2 separate regions of the Homo sapiens genome follow, and region 2 is linked to region 1. Evidence: fine-mapped expression QTL. A gene starts in region 1. The other region holds a variant in brackets. All regions are shown on one strand. Distances are between the middles of the regions.

Region 1 (5,368 bases):
TCTCATCCATTACCTCAAGGGCTATTCCTTGAGTCTTCTTTGTCTTCCACTGGGCTCTACCCAGAAGTGTATGGTCATGCAGCCACGTAACACTGAATGGATGAGAAAAAGAATGAACTGATTACAGAGAGAAGGAGAATCCATTTCATTACCCTGCAAGCATTGTGAGGGCAAAGACCAGGTCCTACTCATCATTATATATCAATGCCCAGCCCAGTGCCTGGTGCATGGAGCTCAATATTTGTGAAATGTGTTGAATAAACCAGTTTCCTCCTCTGCTCTCCTGATAGGCTGGAGGGAGAGTTGAACTAACTGGGTTACTTCTATTTCTATCACGCTTTGATGTGCAGAATCTTTTTTTTTTTTTAATTTCAAATCTCTTATGGCAAAAGGTTCTTTTTCTTTCTTCCTTTTCTTTTCTTTCTTTCTTTCTTTTTTTTTTTTTTTTTTTTTTTGAGACAGAGCTCTGTCGCCAGGTTGGAGTGCAATGGCGCGATCTCGGCTCACCACAACCTCTGACTCCCTGGTTCAAGCGATTCTCCTGCCTCAGCCTCTCAAGTAGCTGGGATTACAAGCATGTGCCACCACACTCAGCTAATTTTTGTATTTTTAGTAGAGACGAGGTTTCACCATGTTGGCCAGGATGGTCTCGATCTCCTGACCTCGTGATCCACCCGCCTCAGCCTCCCAAAGTGCTGGGATTACAGGCATGAGCCACCATGCCCGGCCCTTTTTATTTCATTTTATTATTATTTTTTTTAACAGGGTCTCACTCTGTTGCCCAGACTAAAGTGCAGTGGCACGATCATGGCTCACCGCAGCCTTGACCTCCCTGACTCAAGCGATCCTTCCACCTTGGCCTCCCAAGCAGCTGGGACTACAGGCACAGGCCACCACTCCTGGCTAACTTTTTTCTATTTTTTGCAGAGATGGGGGTGCTCACTTTGCTGCCCAGGCTGGTCTTGAATGTCCATGCTCAAGTGATCCTCTCGCCTCCGCCTGCCAAAGGGAAGGAAAAGGTTCTGGCTCCAGTTTTACAGGTGGCAAAACGGAAGCCCAGAGAAACTGTGTGTCTTGTCCAAATCTCACTGAGTCCCCAGCACATGCTGGGGAGAGGTGATGGCACGGACTGAGGATACAGTGGCAAAGGCAGTGCGCACCTATCAATTCCAGGGCCGGCAAAAGGGCCAGTTCTGGGTTCTGGCATCCCAAGCTCCCTGTCCCTGGCGGCAGTCTCTTCCTTCCCTTTCAGCACCTCATTATCCTGGTATCTAGGAAGAGCGCAGGGCCCCAGGCCCACAGCGTCTGCATCCCGAGAGGTGAAAATCTAAATGCCACTGAGGCAGCTCTCGGGTGTCCCCAGCACCACACAGCCCATTTGGGGACAAGATGACAAAACTTGCCATCCTTCATAAGGCTGGCCCCGGGTCTCCAAGCCCAAACTATCTACGTCAGTGCCAACGTGACCAGCAGCAAACCAATCTTTCACCTCAATCACTTCCTCTCCTCCCCTCTACCCCCTCCCCGCCAGTGATCAAGTCCTCCCCCACCCCAAGAGAGGCAGGGGGTCACATTCCAGGGGGTGTGGGCCATCTGGCAGTAGCCTGAACCCCGGAAAACTGCTTTCCGGAAATTCTCTCCTGCTAGAATTTTATTCCCAGGTCTGACCCCAGCCTGGGGTGTGAATGCCCCCTTCTCGGCCACCTTTCCAGCTCCGGAGACAGCCATTCCCGCAGATCCCTGGCGTGCCTATTCCAAGGCCTGGGCCGCGCAGCACCAAACTGCCCTCCCCTAGGAGACCCCAGGGCGCCCTCTGGCGGACGCGGGCCGTAGGTTGGGGCCATCGTTCCACCTCGAGCTCTCCAGCCCGGCCGAGAGCACCTGGCCCAACCCACACCGGACCAACCAGGTTTGCAGACCCCAGTGCATGAAAGCGTTTTCATAGGGGAGGGGAGGGGGGCTCCACACTCGCGTCAGGGTTGGCAAAGAACCTGGCAGTGGGCCGAGGCTGGGTAGCTGCCACGAAGGGGCGTCCCCTGCAGCCCTGGGTCTCCCCTCTGGAATCTGCCCGCAGGTGACTGTCGCACGTCTCCAACCTCCGGCTCCCGGGTCTGACCCCAGCCCCGCTGCCTGGCTGTGGGGTAGCCCCACTTCCCTTTCGGCTGGCCCGGGCCGCCTGACCCGCAGTTGGGCCCTCGGGGAGGCCCGGGTGGCGGCGAGGGGGTGTCCCCGCGGGGTCCGGGAAAAGGGGAAGGGGAACCGGGAGGCTCTCCAGGTCGGCCTCCTAGAACTGCCCGCTCTCCCGAAGCGGCGCCCCCGCCTCTGCCAGAAATCAGCCTTCTTAGAAGGGAGGGGGGTGGGGGGAAAGTGTGAATGAGAAGTTGGGGGCGGAGCGCGCGGCGGGGAGGGGCCGCTGCCAGGAACGCGCCGCCGGGGCTGGCGCCGCGCCCACCGGCCGCCTCGGCCGCCTCTCGTCGCGCTTTGTCTCCGCGCGCGTCCCTCCCGGTCCCTGCCCCTGCTCGCGGCCCGCCCTCGGCGCCCGCGGCCCCTCCCTCACCCTCCGCGCTCAGCCTTTCTCTGCTGCGAGTAGTGACTAAACATTACAAGAAGGCCGGCCGCGCAGTTCCAGGAATCGGGGGGCGGGGCGCGGCGGCCGCCTATATACCCGCGAGCGCGGCCTCCGCGGCGGCTCCGACTTGGACTCCCTGCTCCGCTGCTGCCGCTTCGGCCCCGCACGCAGCCAGCCGCCAGCCGCCCGCCCGGCCCAGCTCCCGCCGCGGCCCCTTGCCGCGGTCCCTCTCCTGGTCCCCTCCCGGTTGGTCCGGGGGTGCGCAGGGGGCAGGGCGGGCGCCCAGGGGAAGCTCGAGGGACGCGCGCGCGAAGGCTCCTTTGTGGACTTCACGGCCGCCAACATCTGGGCGCAGCGCGGGCCACCGCTGGCCGTCTCGCCGCCGCGTCGCCTTGGGGACCCGAGGGGGCTCAGCCCCAAGGACGGAGACTTCGATTCGGGACCAGGTAGGAAGGAGGAGCGCGGCGTGGGGAGGGGTCTCGCTCAGTCCCGGGAGCTTTTCCCGGTTTCCCCTCCCCTTCCCGGGTCATTCCCGGCAGGGAGGTGACGAGGTAGGGGCAGAGCGGATGGAAGCCGGAGATCCCAGGTTCCCGGAATACTCCGGCTGGGGCCTTCGGGCTTCTCCTGTCCCCTCCCTACCCCCGTGCCTCGGGTTTCTCCCTCCGTCCACACCGCCCGGGGCTACTGGACTGAGCGGCGCCCAGGCAGTCCCGGGGGCCCTTCTCCTGCTCCCCACCCGGCCACACTCCTGGAGACCTAACTTCCGCGCGCGAGTTTCCCACGCTGCGCCCTTGCAGTGCGCGCCTGGGAAGGGGCTGCCCGGGGCCACCCTGCCGGCAGGGGCGGGAGCCGTGCGGGCTCCGTGAGGCGCCTGGATCGGAGCGCGGGCCCAGGAGAGGGCCCCCGGGGCAGTGGGTGCCCCAGTCGCTCGGCGAAGGCAGGGGAGCCGGGGCGGGCCGGGCGCGCTGGAGGGTTCCGGGCACTCAACGCGCTCGCGCCTTCCTCTCCGCAGCCCCCCGGGATGCGGTAGCGGCCGCTGTGCGGAGGCCGCGAAGCAGCTGCAGCCGCCGCCGCGCAGATCCACGCTGGCTCCGTGCGCCATGGTCACCCACAGCAAGTTTCCCGCCGCCGGGATGAGCCGCCCCCTGGACACCAGCCTGCGCCTCAAGACCTTCAGCTCCAAGAGCGAGTACCAGCTGGTGGTGAACGCAGTGCGCAAGCTGCAGGAGAGCGGCTTCTACTGGAGCGCAGTGACCGGCGGCGAGGCGAACCTGCTGCTCAGTGCCGAGCCCGCCGGCACCTTTCTGATCCGCGACAGCTCGGACCAGCGCCACTTCTTCACGCTCAGCGTCAAGACCCAGTCTGGGACCAAGAACCTGCGCATCCAGTGTGAGGGGGGCAGCTTCTCTCTGCAGAGCGATCCCCGGAGCACGCAGCCCGTGCCCCGCTTCGACTGCGTGCTCAAGCTGGTGCACCACTACATGCCGCCCCCTGGAGCCCCCTCCTTCCCCTCGCCACCTACTGAACCCTCCTCCGAGGTGCCCGAGCAGCCGTCTGCCCAGCCACTCCCTGGGAGTCCCCCCAGAAGAGCCTATTACATCTACTCCGGGGGCGAGAAGATCCCCCTGGTGTTGAGCCGGCCCCTCTCCTCCAACGTGGCCACTCTTCAGCATCTCTGTCGGAAGACCGTCAACGGCCACCTGGACTCCTATGAGAAAGTCACCCAGCTGCCGGGGCCCATTCGGGAGTTCCTGGACCAGTACGATGCCCCGCTTTAAGGGGTAAAGGGCGCAAAGGGCATGGGTCGGGAGAGGGGACGCAGGCCCCTCTCCTCCGTGGCACATGGCACAAGCACAAGAAGCCAACCAGGAGAGAGTCCTGTAGCTCTGGGGGGAAAGAGGGCGGACAGGCCCCTCCCTCTGCCCTCTCCCTGCAGAATGTGGCAGGCGGACCTGGAATGTGTTGGAGGGAAGGGGGAGTACCACCTGAGTCTCCAGCTTCTCCGGAGGAGCCAGCTGTCCTGGTGGGACGATAGCAACCACAAGTGGATTCTCCTTCAATTCCTCAGCTTCCCCTCTGCCTCCAAACAGGGGACACTTCGGGAATGCTGAACTAATGAGAACTGCCAGGGAATCTTCAAACTTTCCAACGGAACTTGTTTGCTCTTTGATTTGGTTTAAACCTGAGCTGGTTGTGGAGCCTGGGAAAGGTGGAAGAGAGAGAGGTCCTGAGGGCCCCAGGGCTGCGGGCTGGCGAAGGAAATGGTCACACCCCCCGCCCACCCCAGGCGAGGATCCTGGTGACATGCTCCTCTCCCTGGCTCCGGGGAGAAGGGCTTGGGGTGACCTGAAGGGAACCATCCTGGTACCCCACATCCTCTCCTCCGGGACAGTCACCGAAAACACAGGTTCCAAAGTCTACCTGGTGCCTGAGAGCCCAGGGCCCTTCCTCCGTTTTAAGGGGGAAGCAACATTTGGAGGGGATGGATGGGCTGGTCAGCTGGTCTCCTTTTCCTACTCATACTATACCTTCCTGTACCTGGGTGGATGGAGCGGGAGGATGGAGGAGACGGGACATCTTTCACCTCAGGCTCCTGGTAGAGAAGACAGGGGATTCTACTCTGTGCCTCCTGACTATGTCTGGCTAAGAGATTCGCCTTAAATGCTCCCTGTCCCATGGAGAGGGACCCAGCATAGGAAAGCCACATACTCAGCCTGGATGGGTGGAGAGGCTGAGGGACTCACTGGAGGGCACCAAGCCAGCCCACAGCCAGGGAAGTGGGGAGGGGGGGCGGAAACC
Region 2 (5,368 bases), 390 kb before region 1:
ACACCACTACACTCCAGCCTGGGTGACGGAGCAAGACTCTGTCTCAAAAAAAAGAAGTTCTCTGTCCTGTCTGAGATGATCGGCAGCATTGTTTATCCCTGTAGCCCTGGTACTCTTTATTGATAGTAGAGATTTTACTCCAATTAGGTACTTTTTAAAGGTAATTTCTATGAAAATCTCTATAAAAATGCTTATTAAAAAACTCCTTTACAGTGGAAAAGAGTAATAACTAACATTTCCCTTTTTCCTCACAAGCTCTAAACCTACTAGAAATAGAAAAAGAAATCTGAACATGGAGATCATATGATCAGCCTTGTAACTGGCGAAGAGAGGGAGATGGAGGAGTCCTTATTTCAAACATCTAGGAAATATGTTGCAAATTAGTAAAATAGGTTAAATTTCTCCGTTTCTTTCCCAGTAATAGGATCTTTGAACTAGACTATTTGAAATTATCATTTGAGGCCGGGCGCGGTGGCTCACGCCTGTTATCCCAGCACTTTGGGAGGCCGTGGCAGGCAGATCATTCGAGGTCAGGGTTTCGAAACCAGCCTGGCCAACATGGTGAAACCCTGTCTCTACTAAAAATACAAAACAATTAGCCGGGTTTGCAGTGAGCCGAGATCATGCCACTGCACTCCAGCCTGGGTGACACAGTGAGACTCCGTCTCAAAACAAAACAAAAAACAAAAAAGATGAAATTATCATTTGATATAACCAATAGCAGAGAGATACCTGTACTCTGATTCCTTCTTCGTTTATGCAGTCAATCCTTGTTATTTGTGGATTTTGTATTCATGAATTTTCCTACTCACTAAAGCTTATTTGTAACCCGCAAATCAGTCCAAAGGTAGTCCTTTCGTGGTCATTTCTGGACATTCACAGAGCAGTGAAAAATGCAGTTTGCTCAGTGTACACATTTCCAGCCACTGTGAAACAAGGTGACTGATTTCTTGTTTCAGCCCTCATACTGTAAACAAATGACCTTTATGTGGTCTATTTAGCATTACATTTTTTTTTTTTTGTATTTTTGTGCCTTTGCTGGTGACTTGCTCTTTAAAATAGCCCCTAATCATAATGCTGAATTTCTGTCTATTGTTCCTAAGTACAAGAGGCCATGATGTGCCTTATGGAGAAAATATAGTATGTTAGCGAAGCTTTGCTCAGGAATGAGTTACAGTGCTGTTGGCCATGAGTTCAATGTTAATGAATCAACAGTTGGCTGGGCATGGTGGCTCACATCTGTAATCCCAGCACTGTGGGAGGCTGAGGCAGGTGGATTGCTTGAGCCCAGGGGTTTGAGACCAGCCTGGGCAACACGACGAAACCCTGTGTCTACTAAAAATAGAGCCCATGTCCCCCCGCCATGCGCCCATGGTTCCAGCTATTCAGGTGGCTAAGGTGGGAGGATTGCTTGAGTCTGGGAGGTAGAGGTTGCAGTGAGCCAGGATGTCACCACTGGACTCCAGCCTGGGTGACAGAGTGAGACCCTGTCTTAAACAAAACAAAACACAACAATATATATTAAATAAGCCATCTTTAAACAGAAACCCATATAAACAAGGTTATGTATTGTTCAGTTGACAAAAGTGTGACCAGAGGTCTGTAGGAACCTAACCTGTATTTCCCCTAGGAGCAACGGTTTAGTCTTTTCCAATTCAGTGTTAGCAATGACTATTTTTGTTTTTTTTTTTTTTGAGATGGAGTCTCGCTCTCTCGCCCAGTCTGGAGCGCATTGGTGTGATCTCGGCTCACTGCAACCTCCACCTCCCGGGTTCAAGCAATACTCCCTGCCTGTAGCTGTAGCTGGGATTACAGGCGCCCACCACCTCACCCATCTAATTTTTGTATTTTTCATAGAGATGGGGTTTCACCATGCTGGCCAGGCTGGTCTCGAACTCTGACCTCGTGATCCACCCGCCTAGGCCTCCCAAAGTGCTGGGATTACAGGCATGAGCCACTGTGCCCGGCAACAGCAACAACTTTTTAAACAATAACTACTTTGAATAGCAAGAATCAGCTATAGCTTAGCCCTCTTCCTACCCCTAAACTTCAGGCTGTGACATCCCAGTGCCACATTTGACATCTCCTGGGGGATACCTACAGGGTCTCTCACAGTTGGCATGGCCACAGCAGAGCCCCTGGTGCTGTGTCCCTCTTTATTCACCCCACCTGAGAAATAGCATATCCGCTCACATAGGTGTTCCCATCAAATGTTTTGAATGTTTTGATATCAGCCTTCCCTTTCTCTTGTT[C/T]TGCCTATCCAGTTCATTAGTAGTATGGTTTATTCTACTTCCAAAACGCATCTTGAAGTAATCTGTTTTTCTGCATCTCTGCTGCTGATGTGCTAGTGGAGGCCACTGAATTACTTGCCTGGATGCCACATGAGCTTCCCGTAGCTGATGCCACTCTGTGCACCCATATCTCATGTTCCCTTCCTTCTGGGCACGTGGAGAAGCATATTCTCACCCCCTGGCCATTGATTTGCTATCCTTTTCAGACCCAGAGGGAGCAGGCTAAGAAATATTTTGTGGAATAAGTATGTGGTATTATTTTAGGAGCACTTGGTATTTCTTTGGGTAATAGTAGTTTCTGCAATTTGAGGACTGCTTCTAAACCTGTTAGGAATATTTTTTGAACTGTAAGGGAATTTTTTTTTTAGGGCAGAGAAACATCTGAACAATGTATTAAGTAAAAGCTTGGAGAAAATCTTGGGAAAAAAACACTTCAAAAATAGATTGTTTTAGAGTTCTTTTTTTCTGAAACCACCTGCCTTCTAAAGCAAGATAATTAGATTTTAAACAATGGTTTCTGCTTAGTTAGGTTTTTTTTTATTTTTTTATTTTTATTTGTTATTATTATTTTTTTGAGACAGGGATCTCAATTTGTCACCCAGGCTGGAATATAATGGCATGATCATAGCTTACTGCAGCCTTGACCTGTGGGCTCAAGCAATCCTCCCACCTCAATCTCCTGAGTAGCTGGGACCACAGGCACACCCACCAAACTTGGCTAATTTTTAAATTTTTTTTTGTAGGGGGGATGGAGTCTCAATCTGTCACCCAGACTGGGGTGCAATGGCACAATCTCTGCTCACTGCAACCTCTGACTCCTGGGTTCAAGCAATTCTCCTGTCTCAGCCTCCCGAGTAGCTGGGATTACAGGTGCCTACCACCATGCCTGGCTAATTTTTATATTTTTAGTGGAGACGGGGTTTCGCCATGTTGACCAGGCTGGTCTTGAACTCCTGACCACAGGTGATCTGCCTGCCTTCGCCTCCCAAAGTGCTGGCTGGTCTCAGACTTTTGGGCTCAAGTGATCCTCCCACCTTGGCCTCCCAAAGTGCTGGGATTACAGGTCTGAGCCACTATGCCTGGCCTAGTTTGTTTTTAAATCAATAACAGGTATCAAGAAGTTTGGACTGGCTGACCTTGGTGGTCTTACTGCTGCCACCTTTGCTCTGCCTCACACAGTATGTGGGTGTGTTGGGCCCTTCTCGCAAGCTCCTCTGTCATGTGATGGTTCCGTCTTCAGGGCTGTGGCAGGACCGCGCTGGTTCAGTTTGCTCTGTGTCAGCTGAGTAAAGGATGGGTGGAGTACACCAATTTTGTAACTTGTAACATTTGGTCTTGTGGTTTTGCAAGGAAGGGGTGATATATAATTAGTAAGGCAGGAGAGCAAAGGAAACAGGAAGGGGATCTGCAGTGCTCCTGTATCAAAGTAGATCTCCAAAGCAACAAGGGACAAAAGCAAGCACACTCCTCCCGCCCACCCGTTTTTACTTACTCTTATTTGATCAGAGAACTTTGCTTTCATAAACATCCTTGAATTAAGGCTGGAATTTTTTGGTAAAAATTCCTAACTGAATTTGGTTTAGAAGTATACAGAAAACCCAATGAATTAATTGAATAATCTCCCTTACCCCCTTCTTCAGACAATTCTCCTGTATTCTCTCAAGTAATAAAAGTACTAGAAAGATCAATTGTATTTATCATTAAATGGCTGGTGCTTATAATTTATTCCTTGAATCCAGTTAAACAGTGAGCTTTCCTGATAACCTAGGCATTGTTGTCCCCTACAGTAACCTGGGCCTGTTGGATGTGTAAACATTTTCCTTTGACCCAGGACTGTGTTGAAACTATTTGTTAATCACACAGCAGGATGATCAATACTTACACCAGCTGACGGGACACCTGGCATGACTACTCAGTGATCCAGTAAAACCACGCCAAGCTGGTTCCATAGAGTTTTCATTTTTGATGATAGGACTCGTAGCTCTCAGAATCAGAGAATGTTTAGAGGTGAAACTTACCACAAATGTGGGTCAGCATCTTTAGTTTGTTTCCGGTGTGTGGGGTGCAGTGGCGGACAGTGAGAGAGCCATGTGATGGGAGGAGGCTGCAGAGCTGGACTTTGAATAATGGGTAGGGTTCAGAAAAGTAGAAAATATTGTGAAATTTATTTTATTTTGTTTTTTTGAATGAAGCAACAAAAACAGAGATTTATTGAAAATGAAAGTACACTCCACAGTGTGAGAGTGGACCCGAGCATAGGGGCTCAAGGGCCAAAAATACTGTGAAATTTATTTTAATCAAAGTGGAACATAGATATAGTTTTAAAGATCCTATACAACACAAAATTTTACGTGCTTATAGCAGCAGTTTTCATAAGAACCCCAAAGTGGAAACAACCAGATGCCATCAGCTCATGAGTGGGTAAAGAAGATGAAGTCTGTCCCTACAAGGGAAGATTCTTTAGTCATAAAAAGGAATGAAGTTCTGACACATGCTGCAACATGGCTGAACATAGAAAACATTGTGCCAGGTGAAAGAAACCAGTCACACAAGGCCATGTATTAGGCAAATCTGTAGAGGCAGAAAGTAGATTAGTGGTTGTCAGGGGTTTGGGGATGCGGGAATGGGGGTGACTCCTATGGGGTATGGGGTTTTCTTTTGGGGATGATGAAAATGTTCTAGAATTAGATAGTGGTGGTGGTTGCATAACTTTGTGAACATGCTAAAATCACTGAATAGTATTCTCTAAAAATGTCCTGCCTCTCCCAGACAGTGCCTCCTCCCCGCAGATGTTGACCTCTAGATCCTTCAAGATTGGGACCGCAGTGCAGTATTTGAGTCTCCCCAGATCTCTTCCTAAATACCAGAGAATGCTGCTGAGAGTGTGCATTTTCTTAAAAGTCACTCCCCTCGTTAGTATACCTGTGCCACTATCTTCCCACCCCTCCCAGGGACTTTTTCTATTCTTACTCTACGAGCCTGGCATACTCTGGGCCTTCAGAGCCTGATCCTTAGCATGCCATGTAGTTTTTTCTTTTTTTTTTTTTTTTTTTTTTTTTGGCGCTGCCATTACCTGT

Alleles and levels. Alleles are on the strand shown, and positions count from the first base shown. SD is a standard deviation of normalised expression in the study named.
For the expression in kidney cortex of the gene that starts at base 2,688 in region 1, allele T in region 2 goes with a lower level than allele C (small effect, 0.35 SD a copy in GTEx).

The links. PIP is the estimated chance that this variant, and not a neighbour inherited with it, causes the effect.
Region 2: its variant is the best candidate, but not a certain one, in a credible set for the expression of SOCS3 in kidney cortex (GTEx, PIP 0.84).

What each region holds. Positions count from the first base shown.
Region 1 is chr17:78,357,397-78,362,764 of GRCh38, reverse strand. SOCS3 (suppressor of cytokine signaling 3) reads left to right here and starts at 2,688. Exons shown (of 2, transcript NM_003955.5): 1 at 2,688-3,015; 2 at 3,582-5,368. The coding sequence starts at 3,670. The coding sequence ends at 4,347. SOCS3-DT (SOCS3 divergent transcript) reads right to left here and starts at 2,317. Exons shown (of 5, transcript NR_110847.1): 1 at 1,992-2,317; 2 at 14-92. RefSeq lists silencers at 1,787-1,836, 2,067-2,266, 2,327-2,636, 2,647-2,926, 3,337-3,576 and enhancers at 2,684-3,332, 5,279-5,368.
Region 2 is chr17:78,747,128-78,752,495 of GRCh38, reverse strand. The region is part of intron 1 of CYTH1 (cytohesin 1); the gene reads left to right. Among named protein-coding and RNA genes, the nearest start is that of CYTH1, 32 kb to the left of the region's middle. RefSeq lists enhancers at 3,393-3,462, 3,523-3,582. The variant C/T (reference allele first, on the strand shown) is at 2,253.